7 linked regions of the Homo sapiens genome follow. The protein of the gene in region 1 purifies or fractionates together with the protein of each later gene. This does not show direct contact. Each region holds a gene or a part of one and is shown in the gene's direction. Other genes may lie near its edges. The genes, in order: ANTXR1, DMXL2, PCYOX1, POTEF, DNAJC12, LRP11 and CNTNAP3.

Region 1 (2,649 bases):
GCCGCCACTCAACAGTCAGATGAACCCAACAGTCAGATGAGAGAAATGAACCCTACTTGCTATCTCTATCTTAGAAAGCAAAAACAAACAGGAGTTTCCAGGGAGAATGGGAAAGCCAGGGGGCATAAAAGGTACAGTCAGGGGAAAATAGATCTAGGCAGAGTGCCTTAGTCAGGGACCACGGGCGCTGAATCTGCAGTGCCAACACCAAACTGACACATCTCCAGGTGTACCTCCAACCCTAGCCTTCTCCCACAGCTGCCTACAACAGAGTCTCCCAGCCTTCTCAGAGAGCTAAAACCAGAAATTTCCAGACTCATGAAAGCAACCCCCCAGCCTCTCCCCAACCCTGCCGCATTGTCTAATTTTTAGAACACTAGGCTTCTTCTTTCATGTAGTTCCTCATAAGCAGGGGCCAGAATATCTCAGCCACCTGCAGTGACATTGCTGGACCCCTGAAAACCATTCCATAGGAGAATGGGTTCCCCAGGCTCACAGTGTAGAGACATTGAGCCCATCACAACTGTTTTGACTGCTGGCAGTCTAAAACAGTCCACCCACCCCATGGCACTGCCGCGTGATTCCCGCGGCCATTCAGAAGTTCAAGCCGAGATGCTGACGTTGCTGAGCAACGAGATGGTGAGCATCAGTGCAAATGCACCATTCAGCACATCAGTCATATGCCCAGTGCAGTTACAAGATGTTGTTTCGGCAAAGCATTTTGATGGAATAGGGAACTGCAAATGTATGATGATTTTGAAAAGGCTCAGCAGGATTTGTTCTTAAACCGACTCAGTGTGTCATCCCCGGTTATTTAGAATTACAGTTAAGAAGGAGAAACTTCTATAAGACTGTATGAACAAGGTGATATCTTCATAGTGGGCTATTACAGGCAGGAAAATGTTTTAACTGGTTTACAAAATCCATCAATACTTGTGTCATTCCCTGTAAAAGGCAGGAGACATGTGATTATGATCAGGAAACTGCACAAAATTATTGTTTTCAGCCCCCGTGTTATTGTCCTTTTGAACTGTTTTTTTTTTTATTAAAGCCAAATTTGTGTTGTATATATTCGTATTCCATGTGTTAGATGGAAGCATTTCCTATCCAGTGTGAATAAAAAGAACAGTTGTAGTAAATTATTATAAAGCCGATGATATTTCATGGCAGGTTATTCTACCAAGCTGTGCTTGTTGGTTTTTCCCATGACTGTATTGCTTTTATAAATGTACAAATAGTTACTGAAATGACGAGACCCTTGTTTGCACAGCATTAATAAGAACCTTGATAAGAACCATATTCTGTTGACAGCCAGCTCACAGTTTCTTGCCTGAAGCTTGGTGCACCCTCCAGTGAGACACAAGATCTCTCTTTTACCAAAGTTGAGAACAGAGCTGGTGGATTAATTAATAGTCTTCGATATCTGGCCATGGGTAACCTCATTGTAACTATCATCAGAATGGGCAGAGATGATCTTGAAGTGTCACATACACTAAAGTCCAAACACTATGTCAGATGGGGGTAAAATCCATTAAAGAACAGGAAAAAATAATTATAAGATGATAAGCAAATGTTTCAGCCCAATGTCAACCCAGTTAAAAAAAAAATTAATGCTGTGTAAAATGGTTGAATTAGTTTGCAAACTATATAAAGACATATGCAGTAAAAAGTCTGTTAATGCACATCCTGTGGGAATGGAGTGTTCTAACCAATTGCCTTTTCTTGTTATCTGAGCTCTCCTATATTATCATACTCAGATAACCAAATTAAAAGAATTAGAATATGATTTTTAATACACTTAACATTAAACTCTTCTAACTTTCTTCTTTCTGTGATAATTCAGAAGATAGTTATGGATCTTCAATGCCTCTGAGTCATTGTTATAAAAAATCAGTTATCACTATACCATGCTATAGGAGACTGGGCAAAACCTGTACAATGACAACCCTGGAAGTTGCTTTTTTTAAAAAAATAATAAATTTCTTAAATCAACTCTTTTTTCTGGTTGTCTGTTTGTTATAAAGTGCAACGTATTCAAGTCCTCAATATCCTGATCATAATACCATGCTATAGGAGACTGGGCAAAACCTGTACAATGACAACCCTGGAAGTTGCTTTTTTAAAAAAAATAATAAATTTCTTAAATCAACTCTTTTTTCTGGTTATTTGTCTGTTTGTTATAAAGTGCGACGTATTCAAGTTCTCAATATCCTGATCATAATACAGTGGTTGCTGTGCTATACATTAAATTACATTTCTCAAATGATTTCATGCCTTCCACTAATTTCTCTACTGTCTGGATTACTGTCATTTCTTCCTTAGCTGTCAGACATTCAAAATATTTTTTATTTCTCATAACAAATTTCAAATTAAAAATGTAATCCATGCTAAGAGAAAATAAGTAAAAAGTGAAAACAGAACACACAGGAAAAATATACTGCATCAGTTAGGATTGTGTTTGGCTAACGTAGCAGAAAGGCAACTAGGATTGATTTTACAAGGAGTCCAGAGATTTGCAGCAACCCAAGAACCAGACAGTGTTGTGGACAGTGCTGCAATAAATACCTTTCTATGTACATCTCAAAATCTTTGTATTGCTTCTGCATTTCTGATACAACTCACTTTATCCCTCCTAGCAGTTTTAATTCA
Region 2 (3,500 bases), on another chromosome or scaffold:
TGAACACCTAAAAAATGTAATGGTTATCATTTATCTCTTTCAGATACAGAAAACAGAGTTAGGCCCCTCTAAATAATATACATGGTAATTTGGTGGGAGTGATTTTAGGGGAATAAATAATACCCTCTTAGATGGATTATCATTGGAGAGATGTTCCTTTAGGTCCACTGTCTTCTAAAAACTGAGCCTTGGGAGTAATAACATTTAATTTAATTCATACTAAATAATTGTTGTTTTCTTCCTGTGATTTTAGGAGAAACCCATTGGTTCGTACTAAATCAGTAGTGTTTTCTTCTTGTGATCTAAGGAGAAACTCAAAAAGTCGTAAGTGTGTTTTGCAAGTAAGCATAGATGGACACAAAAAACTCATAAACATTCTGGCTTAGACTCATTTCACAGATATATGTAGCTCATCCGTTAGCTGTAGTTCAAAAACAAAATTCCATACATTTTCTTAGGAGTAATGATTTTGGTTTTGTGCTAGCAACTTCTTCATATCATCTCTGGCCTTGACTGCATCCACACTTAAGAGGATCTAATCAGCAGGAGGTAATCATATTATCATCATGTACCTTTCCCATAATAACTCCCATCATTCCTTTTATGTGGATGAATAACCAATGTTTTCAGCAAAGGCCACTTCCTCCATTTAGGTTCTAAATTGGGTGTGATTTTGTCCACCAGGAGACATTTGGCAGTGTCTGGAGACATTTTTGATTGCTGTGACTGGAGGTGGGGAATTGGTACTGCCAACTAGTGAGGAGAGGCCAGAGATTTAGATAAAACGTCCTACAGTGCACGGGATAGTCCTCCACAATGAAGAGTTACCAAGCCCAAAATGTCAGTAGTACTGAAGTTGTGACAAACCCTGATTTGTACCTTACGGTTTGCATCTCTCTTTCCTACTCAAGTGCATGATTCTAGCAGTTTCTCCCTTCTCTCATAAAAATGCTTTTTCTGCTCTATTGAAACACTGTCTTCATTTAGCCTTCTTAGTTTTCTCCTACCATGCTTAATTGCTTCTTCTCAGCCTGATTCCAGATTTGTATACTCAGCTGTTTCTTTGACATCTCCTCCTTGAAGGTCTAATAGCTATCACAAAGACCTCATAACATTTTCCTCTTCCAGTCTTCCCTAAATCAATAAATAGCAACTCCACTTTTCTTTACTTTCCTTGTAATCTACCTTTTCTCTTCCATTTATGTCCCGTATCTAATGTTAGCAAATTCTAATGGTTATACCTTCAAAATGCGTCCAGAATCTGATTACTTCTTATCTCTACTGCTGCCACCTTGGTGCAAGACAGCATCATTTTTTTCCCCTGGATAATGGCAGTTGAATCTTAAATGGTCTTCCTGCCTTTTCTGACTCTAGCCTATCCTCCTTCAGTTTATTTTCAACATAGTAGCTAGAATGCTCCTGTTAAAATACAAATAAAATCTTGTTAGCCCCTTATTCCAGACTTTCACGTGGCTTTTTTTTCCACTCAGAATAAAAACCTGAGTGCCTGCAATGCCCTCTATTGCTATTTCTTTAGCACCTAAAACAGAAGGTGGTACAAAAAAGTACTCAATAAATTAGTAAATGGAAAGGATACTTAGTGTAATACACACATAGTAAAAACAGTGATCTTTTCATAAGGCTATTTTTTTATAATACTTCTTGGTATAGGTCAGTGGCATTAAGTCATATTTAGAAAAATCAATTTTATACGATGAAGGCAGAGAGCTTTGATATAATATAGGTGTAAAGCTGTGCTGCCCTGGTTTACTCCAAGGATATATATTAATGTATCAGGAGGAATTGACAGGTGGTTCTCAAATTTTCCTCAGTGGTGCTTTTGAAAGACTTAAGTATATAATGAATTAGAGATTAGCCTGACAAATACCTGGAGTGTAGAGATTCTGTACTTTAGGAGTTTAATATGTTGTATTAATTTGCTGGGGCTGCCATAACAAAATAATACAGACTGGGTAGCTTAAACAACAGATTTTTTTTCCTCACAGTTCTGGAGTTTGGAAGTCCAAGATCTATGTGTCAGCAGATTTGGTTTATCTGGAGGACTTTCTCCTTGTCTTGTACATTGCCCCCTTCTTGTTATTTCCTCATATGGCTTTTCCTTTGTGTACATGCACTTGCGGTGTCTTTTTCTCTTCTTAGGGACGCTAGTCTTATAGGGCCCCACCCTTAAGATCTCATTTAACCTTATATTACCTCTTGAAAGGCCTTACCTCCAAACACAGTCACGTTGGTAGTTAGAGTTTCAAGCTATGAATTTTGGGGTTACACAATATAGTCCACAACACATGTTAACAATCAGCTGAGCTGGTCCTGGAATTGAAAATTGAGGAGCCTAGCAAAGACATGATTGAGGTGGCCACCCTACTTGGTGGTAATCTCAGCTCAACCAAAGGAGTACTCTTGGATAGAAGCAAGATTCTGTTAAAGAAATTTTAAGAATATGCTAATATGTGGACAAATGGAAAATTCAAACATGACTGTGATAATTTTATGCTGGACAAATTTTATATAGACATAATTACAAGCACAGTTTGGCCATTAGAAGCAAAAAGCAAATAAAAACCCCAAAGAATTCAGATTTTTTTGGTTTAAAAAATTAATATAATATCTGCATTGTAAAAAAGTTATAATTCCAACAGTGTTGAAATATAGAAAGTAAAACTGAAAGTTTCCAGTTCCCAGAAGAATTCGTATAACTTACTGGTTATCCTTTATTCAAAAAATATTTTGGCACCTAGACATTGTGCATACAGGATAAACTAGCTATTGAAGTGTACTGTTGTATAAGAGGACTTGGTGTATGTTGTTATGTTGCAGGAAGTCAAGGACCCTAAACGGAGGGACAGGCTGAAGCTATGGCAGAAGAACATAAATTGTGAAGATTTCATGGACATTTATTAGTTCCCCAAATTAATACTTTCATAATTTCTTACACCTGTCTTTACTGCAGTCTCTGAACATAAATTGTGAAGATTTCATGGACATTTATCACTTCCCCAGTCAATACTCTTATGATTTCCTATGCCTGTCTTTACTTTAATCTCTTAATCCCGTCATCTTCGTAAGCTGAGGATGAATGTCTCCTCAGGACCCTGTGATGATTGCATTAACTGCACAAATTGTTTAAACAATATGAAATCTGGGCACCTTGAAAAAAGAACAGGATAACAGCAATGTTCAGGGAACAAGGGAGATAACCTTAAAGTCTGGCTGCCTGTGGGCTGGGTGGAACAGAGCCATATTTCTCTACTTTCAAAAGCAAATAGGAGAAATATCGCTGAATTCTTTTTCTCAGCAAGGAACATCCCTGAGAAAGAGAAGGCGTCCCTAAGGGGAGGCCTCTAAAATGGCTGCTTTGGGGCTGGCTGTCTTTTACGGTCATAGATGGGGGATGAAATAAGCCCTGGTCTCCCTTAGTGCTCCCAGGCTTATTAGGATGAGGAAATTCCCACCTAATAAATATTGGTCAGACTGGTTGT
Region 3 (3,274 bases), 1.0 Mb from region 1:
TATGGCCAAAGCACGGACATCAATGCCTTTGTGGGTAAGCCAGGGCTTGAAACAGTGGTGGACATTAGTTCACAGAGGGGCTTACCTGATGCTATGGTGGTTCCTGACTTTAGGCTGTGGATTGGAGGCTACTTTTCTCTGTGAACCTCAGACATTGTTAGCAAAATTGTGCGTATGTAGATGTGCATTTTTAGGGGGAGAGGGTCTTTAGCTTTCATTAGTTCAGTAATTCTTAACTGGGGGAGATTTTGCTCCCAGGGGCCATTTAGCAATGTCTAGAGACATTTGGAGTAGAACATGTAATTGGGAAGGGAGAGTGGGTAGAGAGCCTCTTACAAAAAGTCAGAATTAAAACACATTTTTCCTCCTATTGACAGGGGCGGTGTCACTGTCCTGTTCTGATTCTGGCCTTTGGGCAGTAGAAGGTGGCAATAAACTTGTTTGCTCAGGGCTTCTGCAGGCATCCAAAAGCAATCTTATATCTGGCTCAGTAATGTACATCGAGGAGAAAACAAAGACCAAGTACACAGGTAAGCTTGAATTTCTTATTGTTCCTGATATCCCCTGCAGAAAATGATTGCTCAGGGAGAAACACTTCTCTTCTGTCATCTCTTACTCAGTTCTAAAATGATGAAACTTGAAATTGTATATATTGTACCATATAGAAATATTCCCCAATGGGCCAGGCACGGTGGCTCATGCCTGTAATCCCTGTACTTTGGGAGGCCAAGGAGGGTGGATCACCTGAGGTCAGGAGATCAAGACTAGCCTGGCCAACATAGTTAAACCCTGTCTCTACTAAAAATACAAAAAATTAGCCGGGCGTGGTGGCAGGTGCCTGTAATCCCAGCTACTCGGGAGGCTGAGGCAGGAGAATCACATGAACCCAGGGGGCAGAGGTTGCAGTGAGCCAAGATCACACCACTGCACTCTAGCCTGGGTGACGGAGTGAGACTCCATCTAAAAAAAAAAAAAAAAAAAAAAAATTCCCCAGTGTAGTTAAGTGCTGTGGCATCACTCCTTGGATTTGAAAAATAATCTTTTTTTTTTTTGAGATGGAGTCTCGCTCTTTTGCCCAGGCCGGACTGTAGTGGCCTATCTCGGCTCACTGCAAGCTCCGCCTCCCGGGTTCACGCCATTCTCCTGCCTCAGCGTCCCGAGTAGCTGGGACTATAGGCGCCTGCCTCAGCGTCCCGAGTAGCTGGGACTATAGGCGCCTGCCACCGCGCTCGGCTAATTTTTTGTATTTTTAGTAGAGACGGGGTTTCACCATGTTAGCCAGGATGGTCTCGATCTCCTGACCTCGTGATCCACCCACCTCGGCCTCCCAAAGTGCTGAGATTACAGGTGTGAGCCACCATGCCCGGCCGAAAGATAATCTTACCTTCAAAAGTAAAAATTCTGTATTTTGTACTTACTGACATTCTGAATAAGAAATTGGCCTCAATGTAATAAAAATGCAAGGGACAACTATCTTAAGGGATATAACTTCTTCAATTCTTTAGAATTATAGAGAAATTATGAAGAAGGTATACAATTATTTTTAGAAGGTATGTTAGAAACACTAAACAAATATATGCCTCCTTATTTCCTCTAGGAAATCCAACAAAGATGTATGAAGTGGTCTACCAAATTGGAACTGAGACTCGTTCAGACTTCTATGACATCGTCTTGGTGGCCACTCCGTTGAATCGAAAAATGTCGAATATTACTTTTCTCAACTTTGATCCTCCAATTGAGGAATTCCATCAATATTATCAACATATAGTGACAACTTTAGTTAAGGGGGAATTGAATACATCTATCTTTAGCTCTAGACCCATAGATAAATTTGGCCTTAATACAGTTTTAACCACTGATAATTCAGATTTGTTCATTAACAGTATTGGGATTGTGCCCTCTGTGAGAGAAAAGGAAGATCCTGAGCCATCAACAGATGGAACATATGTTTGGAAGATCTTTTCCCAAGAAACTCTTACTAAAGCACAAATTTTAAAGCTCTTTCTGTCCTATGATTATGCTGTGAAGAAGCCATGGCTTGCATATCCTCACTATAAGCCCCCGGAGAAATGCCCCTCTATCATTCTCCATGATCGACTTTATTACCTCAATGGCATAGAGTGTGCAGCAAGTGCCATGGAGATGAGTGCCATTGCAGCCCACAACGCTGCACTCCTTGCCTATCACCGCTGGAACGGGCACACAGACATGATTGATCAGGATGGCTTATATGAGAAACTTAAAACTGAACTATGAAGTGACACACTCCTTTTTCCCCTCCTAGTTCCAAATGACTATCAGTGGCAAAAAAGAACAAAATCTGAGCAGAGATGATTTTGAACCAGATATTTTGCCATTATCATTGTTTAATAAAAGTAATCCCTGCTGGTCATAGGAAAACACACGGTTCTAATTAAGTGTGAAGGTATAGCTATTGCACTTATGCCATCTCCAAAATTTCTTAAGTATTCTTTCACTATCCATTAGGAGTTTTTCTTAAACTTGTCTGATAATAAGAATCACCTGGAGTTAGGAGGTGGTGGTTGCAGTGAGCCAATCTCACCATTGCACTTCAGCCTGAGCAACACGAGCAAAACTCCGTCTCAAAAGTAAATAAAAATAATCACCTGGAGTTTGTTAAACCATATGGATTCTCAAGCTCCTCTCTTGAAGATTCTGATTCAGTAGGTCTGGGAGTGGCGCGCTGGATTTTGATCAAAATTGTAGAGCATTTTAAGGTGAGTACCTGAGGGAGAACTTAAAGACATCTTAGTTGGGGAGTAGTCCTTTTGAATTTTACAGCTAGATATAATCTTCAGTCAGATAAAATTTATGGGAGCTGGTGTCTTATGCCTGACTCTTAGTAATTTCATACCGGTTTGAAGTACGTGTGCCCATGCCTAAAGCCTTGACTTTCAGAATGTTGTCTTTTGATTCTTCTGTCTTGATTTGATTAGGGGTGAAATTTAGAAGTCTTAGTAATGTAACTTGAAGATGTTAAACAAAAATCTCAAGTAAAATGAAAAGCAAATATGGGCTACTGAATTAAGAAACTGGCATTCTAGTATTAAATCCTCACTTCAGGAGCTTTTAAAAATACTGAGACCCCCCCATAACCAGAGATTCAGATTCAAAGACTGAGGATAGGACCTTAGCATTGTAGCTATTTAAAGTTTCTAATGTGCACCCAGGGTTGGGAATCACCAATGTGGGTGTGAAAATGCCTACAAAGGGTTTTAGTGCCTTAGAAGTCCTAAGAAGCCCAATCTGTATC
Region 4 (4,119 bases), about 61 Mb from region 1:
AAGCCTTCTCCCCACTCCTGCTCACCTCCCCTTTTCCCCCTCCATCCACCCCCCAGAATATTCCCTACTGTCTTTTCACAGTCTTCCCCCCTTCCCACTCGTCCTCTTCTTTGCCCTATCCTGCTTGCCACTCTCTTTTTTGCCTTCCATCTACCCCAAACTATTTTCCCATTTTTTTCCCAACTCTCTTTCCCTGCTCCCTCTCGTCACCCTCTTTCCTCCTCCTCGTTACCCTCTTTCCCCCCACCATCTACCCAAACACTTTTTACCCACTGTCTTTTCTTTCTCCACCGTCTTTCTTTCCTGCCCACTATCTTTTTGCAAAACCTTGTCTTCCTCCCGCTGGCTACCCTTTTCCCTTCCCCCACCTGTTACCCTCTTTTCCCCCTCTATCTACCCAAAACCTTTTCTCCCCACTGTCTTTTCACAAAACCTTCTCTCCCTACTGCTCAACGCTGTTTCTCCCCCCCACCACCCTCTCTTTCCTCCTCCCTTGCCACCCTCTTTTCCTCCTCCATCTACCCATAAACATTTTACCCACCATCTTTCTGCAAAACCTTCCCTCCCTCCCGCTCCCCACCCCGTTTTTCTCCCTCCATCTACCCAAAAACTTTTTTTCCCACTATCTTTTCCCCACCGCCTTTTTGCAACGCGCTCTCCTGCTCACTATCCTCTTTTCCCTTTGGCACTAACCACCCTCTTTACCCCCTCCATCTATCCCAAAACTCTTTTCCTCCTCTTACCGCTTCCGCCGCACTGCCGTCTCGGTCGCGGTTACCACCAGTCGCAGCGAGGCGAGCCACGGTGTAGCGGCTCCAGCCTCCAGCGTACGGCTGGTGATTACCCATTCCTGGTCCTCTAAGCCGGGCACTGAGCAGCTCCACAGGAAAATACGGGAACGTGGAAGAGCCTGACTTCCCTTCAGCAGCAGTCATATACCGAGATTATATACAGGAGGATTCCTGACTGCATGTTCTGATTGGATGAGAAAAACCCTCCAGGGTTACTTGGATTGGACTTTATTATCATGTTCTGATTGGATGAGAGCCAGTCTTAAGACAACCAATCACAGCATGAAAATAAAGTCCAATCAGAGTAGGCCTAGAGGTTTTTCTCTCATCCAATCAGAACATGTAGTCTGGGAACCACATGTGCGTAACCTCAGTAGGTAAAGCATGCGGAGGTGGCGTCAGGTCATTTCAGGCTCTTAAGTGTGGGCGTTTGGTATCCGGCATGGCTGCTACCTGTTTCTGGCTGGAGCCTCGGACACTGGCTCACTGCAGTTGGTGGTGTCGACAGTGGTAGGAGGGCAACCAGTAGCGGGAGCTTCTCCTGCCAGGCAGGAAGACGAGTAGAAGGGAGCGGCATGCTGGAGGCTGGAGCCTGAGCCCCTGGGGCTCGCCTTGCTGTGTTTGGTGGTGACGTGGGACACTGCAGCTCGGCCAGAGTGGTAGAAATGTCCTGGTGTAGGTGAGTTATCCGGGGATGTACTGCCCGCCTGTGGGGGCAGGGGTTGGGTGTCCTATTGGGGCTCACTACCCGAGGCTGCACTGCCTGTGTCAGGGGGCTGGTTGGGGGCACTCTCCGAGGTTGCATTGCTGGCGGTGGAGGGGGGCGGTTTTGGCTGGCTGTCCGGGGCTACACTGCCCGTGGTGGCGGGGGTGATGGGGGGGAGGCAGGTTGTGTGCACTAACGTGTACTGCCGGTGGCGGGGGAGGGGTTAGGGGCACTATTTTCTGCTGCACTGCCCGGGGCAGGGAGTGGTTTTGGTGGTTATTTGGAGCTACAATGCTGGCAGCGGGGGGTGGTTTAGGAGTGTTGTCGGGTGCTGCACTGCCCTTACTCAGGGTGCGCTATCAGGAGCTGCGCTACCTGTGGTGGGGTGGGGGCGGCGATTTTGAGGCATTGTCTTGTGCAGCAACACCTGTGGCTGGGTCAGGTTGTGGGCACTATCGGGTGCTACACTGCCTGTGGAGGGGGTGGTTGGGGGGGGTATTGGGGTTACACTGCCTGCAACTGGCACAGGGTGTGGTGGGTGTGCTGTCCGGGGGCTACACTGCCGGCGGCAGGGGTCAGGTTAGGGTTGCTATGGGGGCTATACTGCCAGTGGTGTTGGTCGGCTGCAGAGGTGGTGGGGACAGCAACAGCCATGGTCTCCTTGCTCCTTCGGGTGACTCTTCTCTTTTCCAGACTCCAGAGTTCCTCCTGGTGCAATCTTGAGCAGGGCAGGGCCCCCACACCCACTGCGGTTCTCCGGCCTGCACCTCCCGCCCACACCCCATGCTCTGTGTTGGGGAGACCACCTGGGACTACCGGGTGGGGATTAGTGGGCATCGCGGGGGACTGTGGGAACAGGGCACTGTGGGTGGAGGTGTCAGGAATGGGAACCAGCAGTTGAGTGGGGAGGGCTGGCTGGGTCTGAGTTTCTCCTACTCCTGCTCCCCAAGGAGTGCAGCCCTGGTGGGCCCAGCAATTTCTGGCCAGTTGCACCTGGATGGGGGTGGTTTCAGCATAGGCACTCACACCCGCCCCAGTTCCTGGCCACCTTTTGCCAGAAAGAGAGGCTGGACTTCGGTGGGTGGGTCTGAGTGCCTTAGCTGAAGCTGGTCCCTGCCACCCAGTGGCCAGCATGACAAGGTGAGGCTCTAACGTTACCACTCCCTGCATCCCATTCTAGGCTTTTCTGGCTTTGCCCGTCTAGCTGCTCCAAGCCAGGCTGGAGGAGGAGGAGAAGGAATCACCTGTGGTACGCTGGAGCCTGCATGTGGCGTGACTCTGCAGCTCGCCTCGTGTGACTGATGGCAGCCACGGAGACTGCAGCTCGACAGGAGTGGTAGGAGGGTGCCCGCGGGGGCAAGGTGGTAGGAACCTTGTAGGGTGGGCTGCTGCATTGATGGCGACAGCAATTGTATTGGCATTGGTGCTAGTGGTGGTAGTGGCAGAAAGTCTGGGGACTGGGAAGGGGGAGTAGGAGCACTGCAGGGCCCAGTCCGACCTGGGGTGGGGACGAACCTGCTGGTGCTGTACCATGGGCCTCGGTGGCAGTGGTGGAGGTGCACTTAGGGAAAGGAGTCCTCCCCCTTCTCTTGCAATCTCTGGAGGGTGGCCTCCTTCTGAGCCAGGCATGAGTGGCAGCATTGTCTCATTCTTAACAAAATTTAGGGGGTGACTGTGTGTGTGTGTGTGTGGCTTTTTTTTTTTTTTTTTTTTTTTTTTTGAGACAGAGTCTCGCTCTTTTGCCCAGGCTGGAGTGCCGTGGTGTGATCTCGGCTCACTGCAAGCTCTGCTTCCTGGGTTCACACCATCCTCCTGCCTCAGCCTCCCTAGTAGCTGGGACTACAGGCGCCTGCCACCACGCCCAGCCAATTTTATTTTTGTATTTTTAGTAGAGATGGGGTTTCACAGTGTTAGCCAGGATGGTCTAGATCACCTGACCTCATGATCCACCCACCTTGGCCTCCCAAAGTGCTAGGATTATAGGCGTGAGCCACCACTCCCGGCCATTTTTTCCTTCTTTTTTGTTGTGATGGTCTTGGACTTTTTCAAATTTTGTGAATTGGGGAGGGGATAAAAGGTGTCATAATAGGCCTTCTAATTCCTGCACCTGTTCTTTTTGCTTATTCTAGTCTGTGTATTCTTCTCATCTTCTTGTTCCTCTTCATTTTCTTTTGCTGCTGCTTCTATTTCATGTTTCTATTCTTGTTTCTCCTCCTCTTTTTGTTTTCTTTATGCCAAGCAATGGCCTTAACAAACAACAAGCCAAAATTGTCACTGTGTTGTATTTTTAAAATAACTGGTCCTTTACTATGTTTTAGGGATGAGGAAAAAAATCAGTTGTATAATTAGTTACTTGAATAGCTATGCTTTCACGATTGTGTTAAACCACTTATGCCTAGTGTTCCATTATTGGAATGGTAAGCATGAGGGAGTTAATTACATCCTACTGCTCAAGGTCATTAGAAGGTTTGATTTTTCACTCGTGCAAAAATTCAAAAAATTGCAGCCTCTGGCATAAATGGGCTAATGCGTTGTAAGTAGTTATTCAGAGAATCAAAAAATGAAGCATCACATAAAAATATTGGTGGCAAACAGCCATTTCATCTCTCTCACATATTTGGA
Region 5 (3,500 bases), on another chromosome or scaffold:
AACAATTTGAGAACAATTAAGTATTGTGCTCTGTACTGTCTATAAGTGCAGCAGAAATTAAAGAAAGAATATCTGAATAGACTTCAGAAAGAGATGGGGCTTGAAATGGCCTTACTAGATGGCCATAATTTTAATGCACTGTGGGAGAGACAGGGCATTTGTATGGCTAGGAAATCTTGGAGAATATTCATCCAAGTGGGAATTGGATTAGTCTCCATGGCACACTGGAGTATTTCCTTGCTTAGACAAAAATATTTTGCTAGCAGAATATGGAAAAGATAAGTTTCTAAGTTTTAAAATTTAAGTTCTAAAATTAATATATGTTCAATAAGGAAATGTGGAATACAAAGAAAGCACAAATAAAAATGTTAACCTACATGTTTAACATTTTGGAGTATGACTTATACATGTTAATTATCTGTGCATATATGCTATATCTGTATATGTATATAAATAAGTAAATGCATATGTGTATATGTATGTACGTATGTATGTATTTTTGAGACAGATTCTCACCCTGTGGCCCAGACTGGAGTGCAATGGTGCGATCTCAGCTCACTGCAACCTCTGCCTCCCAGGCTTAAGCGATTCTTGTGTCTCAGCCTCCCAAGTAGCTGGGACTACAGGCACGTGCTACCACACCCGGCTAATTTTTTGTATCTTTAGTAGAGATGAGGTTTCACCATGTTGGTCAGCCTGGTCTCCAATTCCTGACCTCGTGATCCGCCCACCTTGGCCTCCCAAAGTGCTGGGATTACAGGCGTGAGCCACCACACCTGGCCTATGTGTATGTATTTATATGTGTATTTTTGTATGTATTTGGAGTCAGACTGCATGGGTTCAGTTCCTAGATGTGCTACTTATTAGCTGTGTGACCTTGGGAGAATTCCTTAATTTTTCTATGTCTTGATTTCCTAATCTGCAAAATGAGAATAATGATAGTATTAACCTCATACAGTTGTGGGAATTAAATGAAACATTCTATGTAAAGTGCTTAGAAAAGTGCCTGGCACATATTAAGTATCAAAAAATTTATTTATTTATTTATTTATTTATTTATTTATTTATTTATTTATTTTTTGAGACGGAGTCTTGCTCTGTCGCCCAGGCTGGAGTGCAGTGGCGGGATCTCAGCTCACTGCAAGCTCCGCCTCCCGGGTTCACGCCGTTCTTCTGCCTCAGCCTCCTGAATAGCTGTGATTACAGGCGCCTGCCACCACGCCCAGCTAATTTTTTATATTTTTAGTAGAGACGGGGTTTCACTGTGTTAGCCAGGATGGTCTCAATCTCCTGACCTCGTGATCCGCCCGCCTCAGCCTCCCAAAGTGCTGGGATTACAAGAGTGAGCCACAGCGCCCGGCCTATTTATTTATTTTTTGAGACGGAGTCTTGCTCTGTCACTCAGGCTGGAGTGCAGTGGCGCGATCTCAGCTCACTGCAACCTCCGCCTCCCAGGCTCAAGCGATTCTTGTGTCTCAGCCTCCCAAGTAGCTGGGACTACAGGCCATGCCAGGCTAATTTTTTAATTTTTAGTAGAGACAGGGTTTTGCCATTTGGCAATTGGCCAGGCTGTTCTTGAACTCCTGACCTCAGGTGATCTGCCCGCCTCAGCATCCCAAAGTGCTGGGATTACAGGTGTGAGCCACTGCACCCAGGTCAATAAATTTAAAATGATAATAATTATCATTATTATATACATATATAGTTACATAATCCCTTTTGAGATAAGACATGGATTTAAATTGCACATAATACTTACATATTATTATATGCAGTATAACATAATATATTGCACATATCTTACCTTTTCTCATAGAAATATTTAAATTTTCTCAGGTTGTTAAAAATCTTTTATGACAAGATAATTTTTTAAATGAGTAAAGTATTCTAACCTACAGTTACATTACAATCAACTATAACAAACATCCTATTATTGGACATATAGGTTGTAAGAATTAAAGAAAGAGGAGAGAAACACAAAGGGCGGCTTGACAGTCAACAGGGACAGATTTGTTTATTTATTTTTATTTTTTATTTTTTATTTTTTTGAGACGGAGTCTCACTCTGTCGCCCAGGCTGGAGTACAGTGGCGCAATCTCGGCTCACTGCAAGCTCCGCCTCCCAGATTCACGCCATTCTCCTTCCTCAGCCTCCGGAGTAGCTGGAACTACAGGCGGCCGCCACCACGCCCGGCTAATTTTTTTGTATTTTTAGTAGAGACAGGGTTTCACTGTTTTAGCCAGGATGGTCTCGATCTCTTGACCTCGTGATCCACCCGCCTCGGCCTCCCCAAGTGCTGGGATTACAAGCGTGAGCCACCGCACCCGGCCTGACAGGTTTATTTTGAATAAACCTGAGAGGGGCGGCTGGCTGAGTTAGGTTAGAGACACACTCTCCTACAGACTAAGAGTTTCTAAGGCTTCAGGGTGGGAGAGTTTATCAGAGGCTTGGACTGCTTCTCTGTCTCTTTGTTGTGCTTTTCTGGGAGGGAGAGTTGTGTGTCTGTTCCCATCCATCTTTCTGCAGCTGTAGGCATACCCCGCCCGAGTCTGCTTTTTGCTTCCCTATCTTGGTACACCTGAAGGGAAAGGAATGTGCTTATTAAGTAAGGCTCACTGTTTTACTGGGGCCCATTTTGTGAGGGTGAAGTTTGGCAGTTGCTCCAGAGACTTTCCCCCCACCTCCCTCTGCGCCCGAGCTGTCTTATTTGTGTTTTACTGTCTGCTCTTTCTGGCTGCTTGTAGTTCGAACAGAAGTGATTTCCTTGAAATGCATGAGACTAGAAAGGGAACTGGAATTTAAAGTGGCGATGTCTGTCTGAGTTGATGGTGCTCTTGCTCTATCATAGGTTTTTGTTTAAAATTTATATTTTATTCTTGGACCTTCTTACAGCTATTCTTTTCTTACCTCTGATTATCTCCTTAGACAAATTCCTAGAATTGGAATTGTTGAATCAAAGGCTAGGAAATAAATTAAAGGCTCTTCATATATATGTGTGTATATATATATATATAGAGAGAGAGAGAGAGAGAAAATAGAATATTTAACACTTTAAAATTTAAAAACAAGTCTAGATCTCAGTTTTATTTGTTATATAAGCAGGTTATGGTGACTGATGGTTAAAGACAGCACCCAGGAAGAGGAAACACATAGTTAATTACAGTTCCTAACAGGAAGTCATCTTTTCCTATTATTCGAAGGTGTTCTCAGAAGTTTAACAAAGAAAATAATAGTTATTAGTCTGGGTTTTATACATATGCCTATCTAATACAGCCTGACTTTGATTGTAAAAGTGAAGACATTCCTTATGAGAATTGACTAAGGATGACATGGAGCTGATCTACATATAGAGAGATAGATACACACATATATCTATATATAGAGAGATAGATACACACACATATATATACACACACATACAAACATATATGTCTCAATTTTTTTCAAGAAAGTCTATACCTATTTACATCCTCGCCAGCAGAGCATGAATGTTAATTTCT
Region 6 (3,500 bases), on another chromosome or scaffold:
GAAAATAAAAAGGAATTGGTGAAGTACTAACTGCTGTCTAGAATCACTTAGTGGTTATATTGGAATAACATGCTATGAATTAAAGTTAATAAAACACCACAGAGAGACATTGGAAAATAGAGGTAGAAGAGACAAGTGTTTCCCTCCCCTGCATTGTATGTATTGGTCTTGCAATGAATGACCCAGATGTTATGGTAACCAAGGGTGACACTAGCTGAGGTAGACAGATGAGCAGGTACCCTGCTTATATGATCATAACTTGGTTCAATTTTTAATAAGTTGACATTTTGAACATTTTTCATGCTTAGAAAAATGATCAAACAGCAAGCCAGCAAGCTCTTCCAACATGATCTAACTCAGCAGTCTCCAAACAGGATGCCCCTGAGTTGTTCAAGACATTTTTAGGGTGAGAAAGAAGACAGCAGAGTTTATATTTTTGCTGATTTTTAATTTTTTTCCTTAAAATTTGAGTATATTTTATAAGATACACCCCATGTTAGTACAGTAGTATGCACGTATTATTTATAAATAAACCGGACTAGCCGGATGTGGTGGGACACGCCTGTAATCCCAGCTACTCAGGAGGCTGAGACATGAGAGTCAGTTGAGCCTGGGAGCTGGAGGCTGCAGTGAGCTGAGATTGTGCCACCGCACTCCAGCCTGGGCGACACAGCGAGACTCCGTCTCAAATAAATAGATAAATAAATAAACTGGAGATGCCTGTTCAACAATATATTATTGATCAGGATGCATGATCAAAAAAGTTTGGAGGCTGCTAATCCAAAAATAGATAGAAAATTTACAAATATGGATCCATCTCCAAAATCACCAAAGAATAAATAAAACCTTGAGATATCTGGGATTTTCATGCCATGAATTTAAGAAACCTGACGAGGAACTGTATCCTGCTTGATATCCAGCGTGTCCCCCACCTCCGCTCCCTGCTTCTTCCCAGTGGCCGGAGCTGACTCTCCTTCAGGCCCATGTTCTCAGTCATAACTGCAGGCTCTTTGCTTCCTCTTCTTCCGCAGGAGCTTCTATCACCATTTATTTTCTTTAACTTCTCTTCCTCCTGGATCAATATATCTTCAAATTGCCTCACACCAAGATAGACTCCTTTTCCAACCTCTTGATTTAACCACGTTTCAATAAAAGATGTGTCCAAGGCCGGGCGCAGTGGCTTACACCTGTAATCTCAGCACTTTGGGAGGCTGAGGCAGGAGGATTGCTTGAGTCCAGTAGTTCAAGACCAGCCTGGGCAACATAGTGACACCCTGTATCTACAAAAAAAAAAAAAACAAAAAAAAACCAAGTGTATGTCCAAGATTTCACTTGGGTTTGTGAACTGTGCTCAGCCATTTGGTTTTGAAGGAATATCATATAATCTGCCACTTCCCCATGTTCCTGAGAGAATTGTCTAGTCCACTCTGTCCCTGTAAAACCGTGGAGCTCCTGTGACCTGCTTCTAGCCTTGTGCCTTAGTCCATGTTGCCAGTACCAGATAGTCACCCGGTTCTCCTCTAGCTAAGTCTAATAAAGTTGGCTTAATCAAGGGAGAGGGAAAATGCATTTCAGGAAAATATTTGTAGCTCCTATGAATTGCACTGCAAATTAAAAGCTCCTAAGAACTCCAGAAGGGAGAAATGTCGTTATTTCTTTCTTTTTTTTTTTTTTTGAGACAGAGTCTCCCTCTGTCGCCCAGGCTGGAGTGCAGTGTCACAATCTTGGCTCACTGCAACCTCTGCCTCCCAGACTCAAGTGATTCTCCTGTCTCAGCCTCCCGAGTACCTGGGACTACAGGTGCATGCCACCAAGCCCGGCTAATTTTTTGTATTTTTAGTAGAGACGGGGTTTCACCGTGTTAGCCAGGATGGTCTCGATCTCCTGACCTTGTGATCCACCCGCCTTAGCTTCCCAAAGTGCTGGGATTACAGGTGTGAGCCACCACGCCTGGCCAATGTCATTATTTCATGAAACTAAATTCATGCCAGCCCATAACTAAATTTTGTTTATTCTCTACAGTACCAGGGACGTTATGATAATCAACAAATAGGATTCAATAGTAAAAACTTAATCTCAGTGAAAAGTATTACTTAGGAGACAAGAATGTAAGACATAGCATATGTAAAATAGTACCTCTGGGCCAGGCACGGTGGCTAACACCTGTAATCCCAGCACTTTGGGAGGCCGAGGCAGGTGGATCAGTTGAGGTCAGGAGTTCGAGACCAGCCTGGCCAACAAGGTGAAATCCCATCTCTACCAAAAAACACAAAAATTAACCGGGTGTGGTGGTGCATGTCTGTAGTCCCAGCTACTCCAGAGGCTGAGGCAAGAGAATCTCTTGAACCCGGGAGGCGGAGGTTGCAGTGAGCCAAGATTGTGCCACTGCACTTCAGCCTGGGCGACAGAGTGAGACCTTGTCTTAAGTAAGTAAATAAATAAATAAATGGTATCTCTGTTAAAACATAGCCAACTGCCATCCAGGGGATGGGATGGTATTAGGTGCCCTCCTGCAGAGCAATCGACAGCCAGAAGAAGAGGTTCCAACAATGGTTTCTATGAATGAATGAATGAAGAGGGAGACAGCTGAGGCGGGGAATCAAGGGTGGAGAGAGACCTGGGCTGTTGCTTCTGTGTGCCACCTCCTGGCAAGGCAAGCATGGAGAACAGCCCTCAGACCAAGAGCCCCTGAGGAGTCTGAAGAATTAAGTCGGGAGGCTCAAAAAGAGCCCTCCAACCTCTCCAGAACCTGTTGCTGGAATTGTTAGGTTTGCCTCATTATTTGCATCTCTTCCCCGAAGTGCATTTTATCATCCCCACGGACTCCCCTTTGTCATCCCCATCTTGAGAGTCTGAACTTCTGCACTCGTGTGACTTGAGATTTGTTTACAAATAGGATGTTTGCACACTTGCTCACGCTACCACTTCTTCTGTGACGATGGCTGCTGCATTGACATCACGCTCGCCTGCGATGGAGTGCAGCAGTGTCCTGATGGGTCTGATGAAGACTTCTGCCAGAATCGTGAGTTGGCTATGTCACATTGCTAGGCAGTGGCTGGAAGGGATGGAGTTGGGAGGTCTGTGTTCTGAGAATGAAATGCAAACACAGTGTCCTTCCCCTGCTTGATTTTAGTTATAACTTTACATGTAAAAGCTATGCCTTAAATGAGAATTCAATATGTCTCTAGTCTAAGTCTCAAATGTCAAATTTTTAGTATTGCTTATGTTTTTAATTTTTTTCAATTTTCCAGGTTCTTTCTATCCTAAAAATGCTGCATGTCATGTGCTTTCTTAAAAACTGCAGTGATTTGATGCTTTGTTTTGATAATTTTTTAAAGAAAATTTGCGATACACCAGGGTGTGGCTAAGTCAGAGCTGTAAATCAGTCTTATAATATCATACACATAGAAACACCCTGTAAGAAAGAAGAAAAACTGAAGAAAATGTAATGAAGTATGGATTTGAGGAAGGACGAAGAGTCTCAAAACCTTAAGTTTACG
Region 7 (3,500 bases), on another chromosome or scaffold:
TGGCTTTGGCATATAATATTAAACTGAAGATCCTAGTCCTATACCGGATTATTCAGTTTTATTACTTTAATTTAACCATGTAATAGCAAAAGATAATATCTAATGCAGAGGTTGGCAAACTATGGGCATCAGGCCAAGTTTGGACATTTTTTAATTAAAAAAATACAAAGCCTGTTTTTGTTCAAAAGAGAAGGTTTTATTGGAACATGTTCTCTTTCTTTATGTATTGTCCGTGGCCACATTGGTACTTCGTGTCAGAGTTGAGTGCTGCAAAAGAGATCATATGACCCACAAAGGGTAAATTTACTACATGGCTGAAAATTTCAATGTGGCAGAAAATGTGTGTTGACTTCTTCCTTTTAAGTTTGTTCAAAACTGTGTGGTGCCAGAAATAAAGGTATTAACAGCTGTCATTATGATAGAACACTTCATTTGGAATAAGCAAGCATGCAAATATAAGATAATGGGAATGGATTTGTGACAGTTAGTACTAGACCTATTAATTATAAATGCTTTAAACACGTACCATCAGAAAATCACTAAACAATGTTATTTATGTCATTTTTCTTTCTAAGATCAGCTTTGGGGGAATTCCGACACCCGGAAGATCGCGGGCATTCAGACGTAAAAGCTTTCATGGGTGTTTAGAAAATCTTTATTATAATGGAGTGGATGTTACCGAATTAGCCAAGAAACACAAACCACAGATCCTCATGATGGTAAGGAAGCCTAATGGGAAGGAAAGAAAAAAGGACATTTTATTTTTTGCATTTAAAAATTATTCATGTGAAGTCTCCATTTCATCTAATATTTTAAGAATCAGTTCTTACTTTAACAGCTGCCCATGTAATATAGTAATTTAGTTTTATTTATTTATTTATTTTTAAGACAGAGTCTCCCTCTTGTCTCCCAGGTTGGAGTGCAGCGGCGCAATCTCAGCTCACTGCAGCTTACGCCTCCCAGGTTCAAGCAATTCTCCTGCCTCAGCCTCCTGAGTAGCTGGGATTACAGGCGCCCGCCACCATGCCCAGCTAATTTTTGTACTTTTAGTAGAGACGGGGTTTCGCCATGTTGGCCAGGCTAGTCTCGAATTCCTGACCTCAGGTGATCTGCCTGCCTCGGCCTCCCAAAGTGCTGGGATTACAGGTGTGAGCCACTGGGCCTGGGCCAATTTTTTTTTTTTTTTTTTTGAGACGGAGTCTCACTCTGTCGCCCAGACTGGAGTGCAGTGAAGCTCTGCCTCCTGGGTTCACGCCATTCTCCCGCCTCAGCCTCCCGAGTACCTGGGACTACAGGTTCCCACCACCATGCCCGGCTAATTTTTTATATTTTTGGTAGAGACGGGGTTTCACCATGTTAGCCAGGATGGTCTCGATCTCCCAACCTCGTGATCTGCCCACCTCGGCCTCCCAAAGTGCTAGGACCACAGGCGCACTTTTTTTGTTTTTGTTTTTGTTTTTGTTTTGAGATGCAGTCTTGCTCTGTTGCCCAGGCTGGAGTGCAGCGGTACAGTCTTGGCTCACTGCAACCTCCGCCTCCTGGGTTCAAGCCATTCTCCTGCCTCAGCCTTCCGAGTAGCTGGGACTACAGGTGTGTGCCACCACACCCGGCTAATTTTTTTTAGTACAGACAGGGTTTTGCCACATTGGCCAGGCTGGTCTCAAACTCCTGACCTCAGACGATACACTTGCCTCGGCCTCCCAAAATGCTAGGATTACAGGCACGAGCCACCTTGACCCAGCCTAATATAGTAATTTTTATTATGCATAAAAAGTTATAAAGTAAATATGCCTCATGGGACATCGTTGTTTCATTTTTATATGAAATAAAATAACTTTCTATTTTTACATGGAAATCAGAATTCATATGTCTCACGTGTTTTTGGTGTTGTTATCCACAGGAGACCAATCATTTTGCAATGGCAATCCCTAATGATCTATTCCCTAATCAACTGGAAATACTTCCAAATCAGTTAATAAACTTCTTTCAATGTTTAAAGTTTGAAATATCCAAGTTGGGGTTAAAGGGAAAGCTCATGTTTAGTTGTCAGTGTATCTCAGCAGCACATCATGGGAATATTTATTTGTATTGTTGGGAACATGTTTTCTTTCCTGTTATGTGCTGGAGGAGTTGGCTCATGGGTTGCAGGACCAAAACCTGAAAATATCTCTGACTGTGTGTCACCAGACCACACAATGAATACATCACTTAGGTTAGCATGAGAAAAAGGGAAAAACAGCTGTGAAGCCCATGAACTTTCCAAGAAGGTAAAGGAGAAAAAAAAAAAAAAAGATGGGTTTGAAGTCTAAGTTTTACTATGAACAGCACCCTGCTGAGATCATAAAAATGAAAAATACCATCAAGATACATGAAAAAGGAAACACCAAAGGGAAGAGTGATAACAAGGCTCCACAGAGTGCAGTTTCCTTTGACAAGATGAAAAAGAAATGAAAAGAGGAAGGAGATAAATGGAACAGCCCTCTACCTAAAGTTTCTGTCCATGGAGAAACTGACATTTAAGTGCTGCTCAACAGGAAAAAGAAAAAAGACCTGGTTATTGAAGTTGGCTTTGTTGGAGATGCGTTACTCAGATACAGATACAAAGATGGGTTTGGCCAATGGGCATCCGTGTCAAGAAGCCTGACCTAACACGTTCTGAATATTAAGCTACCTTTTATCTGCCAGTCCTTGGTGTTCAGAAGAATCCCTCCTCCTCACCCTAACTTCTATGGGGCTATTTACAAAGACACTGTCATTGAAGTGAGGAAGAGTGAGTTGGGCCTTATGACACAAAGAGACAAGACTATTTGAGGACAACAGACACAGGTTTTCATATACATTCCATGTTATTCTGAATTACTGATGGGTTCACTGATGGAATTATTGAGTATAGCCAATAAGGAGAACCACAATTAAGCTGGTATCTCTGGGTTCTGGATATCATCCTCAAGAAAACTATTTACTAATTACATTGAATGAGGTTATTAAAATGTGTAAGTTTCACACAAAAACAAAAAGACAATTCATTCCAAATTGTGCATATGGATATATAATGTTAATTATGGGAATTCCATTTTAAGAATTACTACAATTCTATGTGTTCTGTATAAAAACAGGAAAATAGTTGTTCCAATATATAAAAGGAAAACATTTAAAAATGTATTTTGTTGGGAAAATCAGTTGCCAGAATTCATTCAGTCAACTAACAAGCACTCCTCTGTGGCAAGAAGCCCTGCCTCTCTGTTGTAGCAGGCAGCTACCCACCTAAATGATGAGGTCAAGAAATATACAGCTGATAAAAAGATAAAAAATATGTAATAGTCCAGTGATTACATGTGTACTATGGATCAGTGCCAATTACTTGTAAGCTTTTGGTATTTAGTTTGTTACAGCAAATGTTTTCTTTTTTAAATTTTCTTCTGCAAATGTTTTCTTGTCATGAAAACTGTTTCCCATTTGGCAGAATTACAAAAACAGTCAAGAAGAAATGTTCTGATTGA

The links.
Region 2: the proteins of ANTXR1 (region 1) and DMXL2 purify together in Homo sapiens (affinity purification with mass spectrometry; 3 studies listed by BioGRID and IntAct, with this or other methods). This does not show direct contact.
Region 3: the proteins of ANTXR1 (region 1) and PCYOX1 purify together in Homo sapiens (affinity purification with mass spectrometry; 3 studies listed by BioGRID and IntAct, with this or other methods). This does not show direct contact.
Region 4: the proteins of ANTXR1 (region 1) and POTEF purify together in Homo sapiens (affinity purification with mass spectrometry; 3 studies listed by BioGRID and IntAct, with this or other methods). This does not show direct contact.
Region 5: the proteins of ANTXR1 (region 1) and DNAJC12 purify together in Homo sapiens (affinity purification with mass spectrometry; 3 studies listed by BioGRID and IntAct, with this or other methods). This does not show direct contact.
Region 6: the proteins of ANTXR1 (region 1) and LRP11 purify together in Homo sapiens (affinity purification with mass spectrometry; 2 studies listed by BioGRID and IntAct, with this or other methods). This does not show direct contact.
Region 7: the proteins of ANTXR1 (region 1) and CNTNAP3 purify together in Homo sapiens (affinity purification with mass spectrometry; 2 studies listed by BioGRID and IntAct, with this or other methods). This does not show direct contact.

What each region holds. Positions count from the first base shown.
Region 1 is NC_000002.12:69,247,179-69,249,827, forward strand, and holds the end of ANTXR1 (anthrax toxin receptor 1 isoform 1 precursor), read left to right. Parts: 3' UTR 1-2,149; downstream 2,150-2,649. UniProt on the Homo sapiens protein: Plays a role in cell attachment and migration. Interacts with extracellular matrix proteins and with the actin cytoskeleton and thereby plays an important role in normal extracellular matrix (ECM) homeostasis.
Region 2 is NC_000015.10:51,612,772-51,616,271, reverse strand, and holds part of DMXL2 (dmX-like protein 2), read left to right. Parts: intron 1-3,500. UniProt on the Homo sapiens protein: May serve as a scaffold protein for MADD and RAB3GA on synaptic vesicles. Plays a role in the brain as a key controller of neuronal and endocrine homeostatic processes.
Region 3 is NC_000002.12:70,275,137-70,278,410, forward strand, and holds part of PCYOX1 (prenylcysteine oxidase 1 precursor), read left to right. Parts: coding exon 1-34; intron 35-377; coding exon 378-530; intron 531-1,597; coding exon 1,598-2,256; 3' UTR 2,257-3,274. UniProt on the Homo sapiens protein: Prenylcysteine oxidase that cleaves the thioether bond of prenyl-L-cysteines, such as farnesylcysteine and geranylgeranylcysteine. Only active against free prenylcysteines and not prenylcysteine residues within prenylated proteins or peptides.
Region 4 is NC_000002.12:130,126,423-130,130,541, reverse strand, and holds the start of POTEF (POTE ankyrin domain family member F), read left to right. Parts: upstream 1-1,319; 5' UTR 1,320-1,470; intron 1,471-2,677; 5' UTR 2,678-2,833; intron 2,834-4,119.
Region 5 is NC_000010.11:67,828,189-67,831,688, reverse strand, and holds part of DNAJC12 (dnaJ homolog subfamily C member 12), read left to right. Parts: intron 1-3,500. UniProt on the Homo sapiens protein: Probable co-chaperone that participates in the proper folding of biopterin-dependent aromatic amino acid hydroxylases, which include phenylalanine-4-hydroxylase (PAH), tyrosine 3-monooxygenase (TH) and peripheral and neuronal tryptophan hydroxylases (TPH1 and TPH2).
Region 6 is NC_000006.12:149,836,860-149,840,359, reverse strand, and holds part of LRP11 (low-density lipoprotein receptor-related protein 11 isoform 1 precursor), read left to right. Parts: intron 1-2,896; coding exon 2,897-3,022; intron 3,023-3,500.
Region 7 is NC_000009.12:39,173,168-39,176,667, reverse strand, and holds part of CNTNAP3 (contactin-associated protein-like 3 isoform 1 precursor), read left to right. Parts: intron 1-575; coding exon 576-719; intron 720-3,500.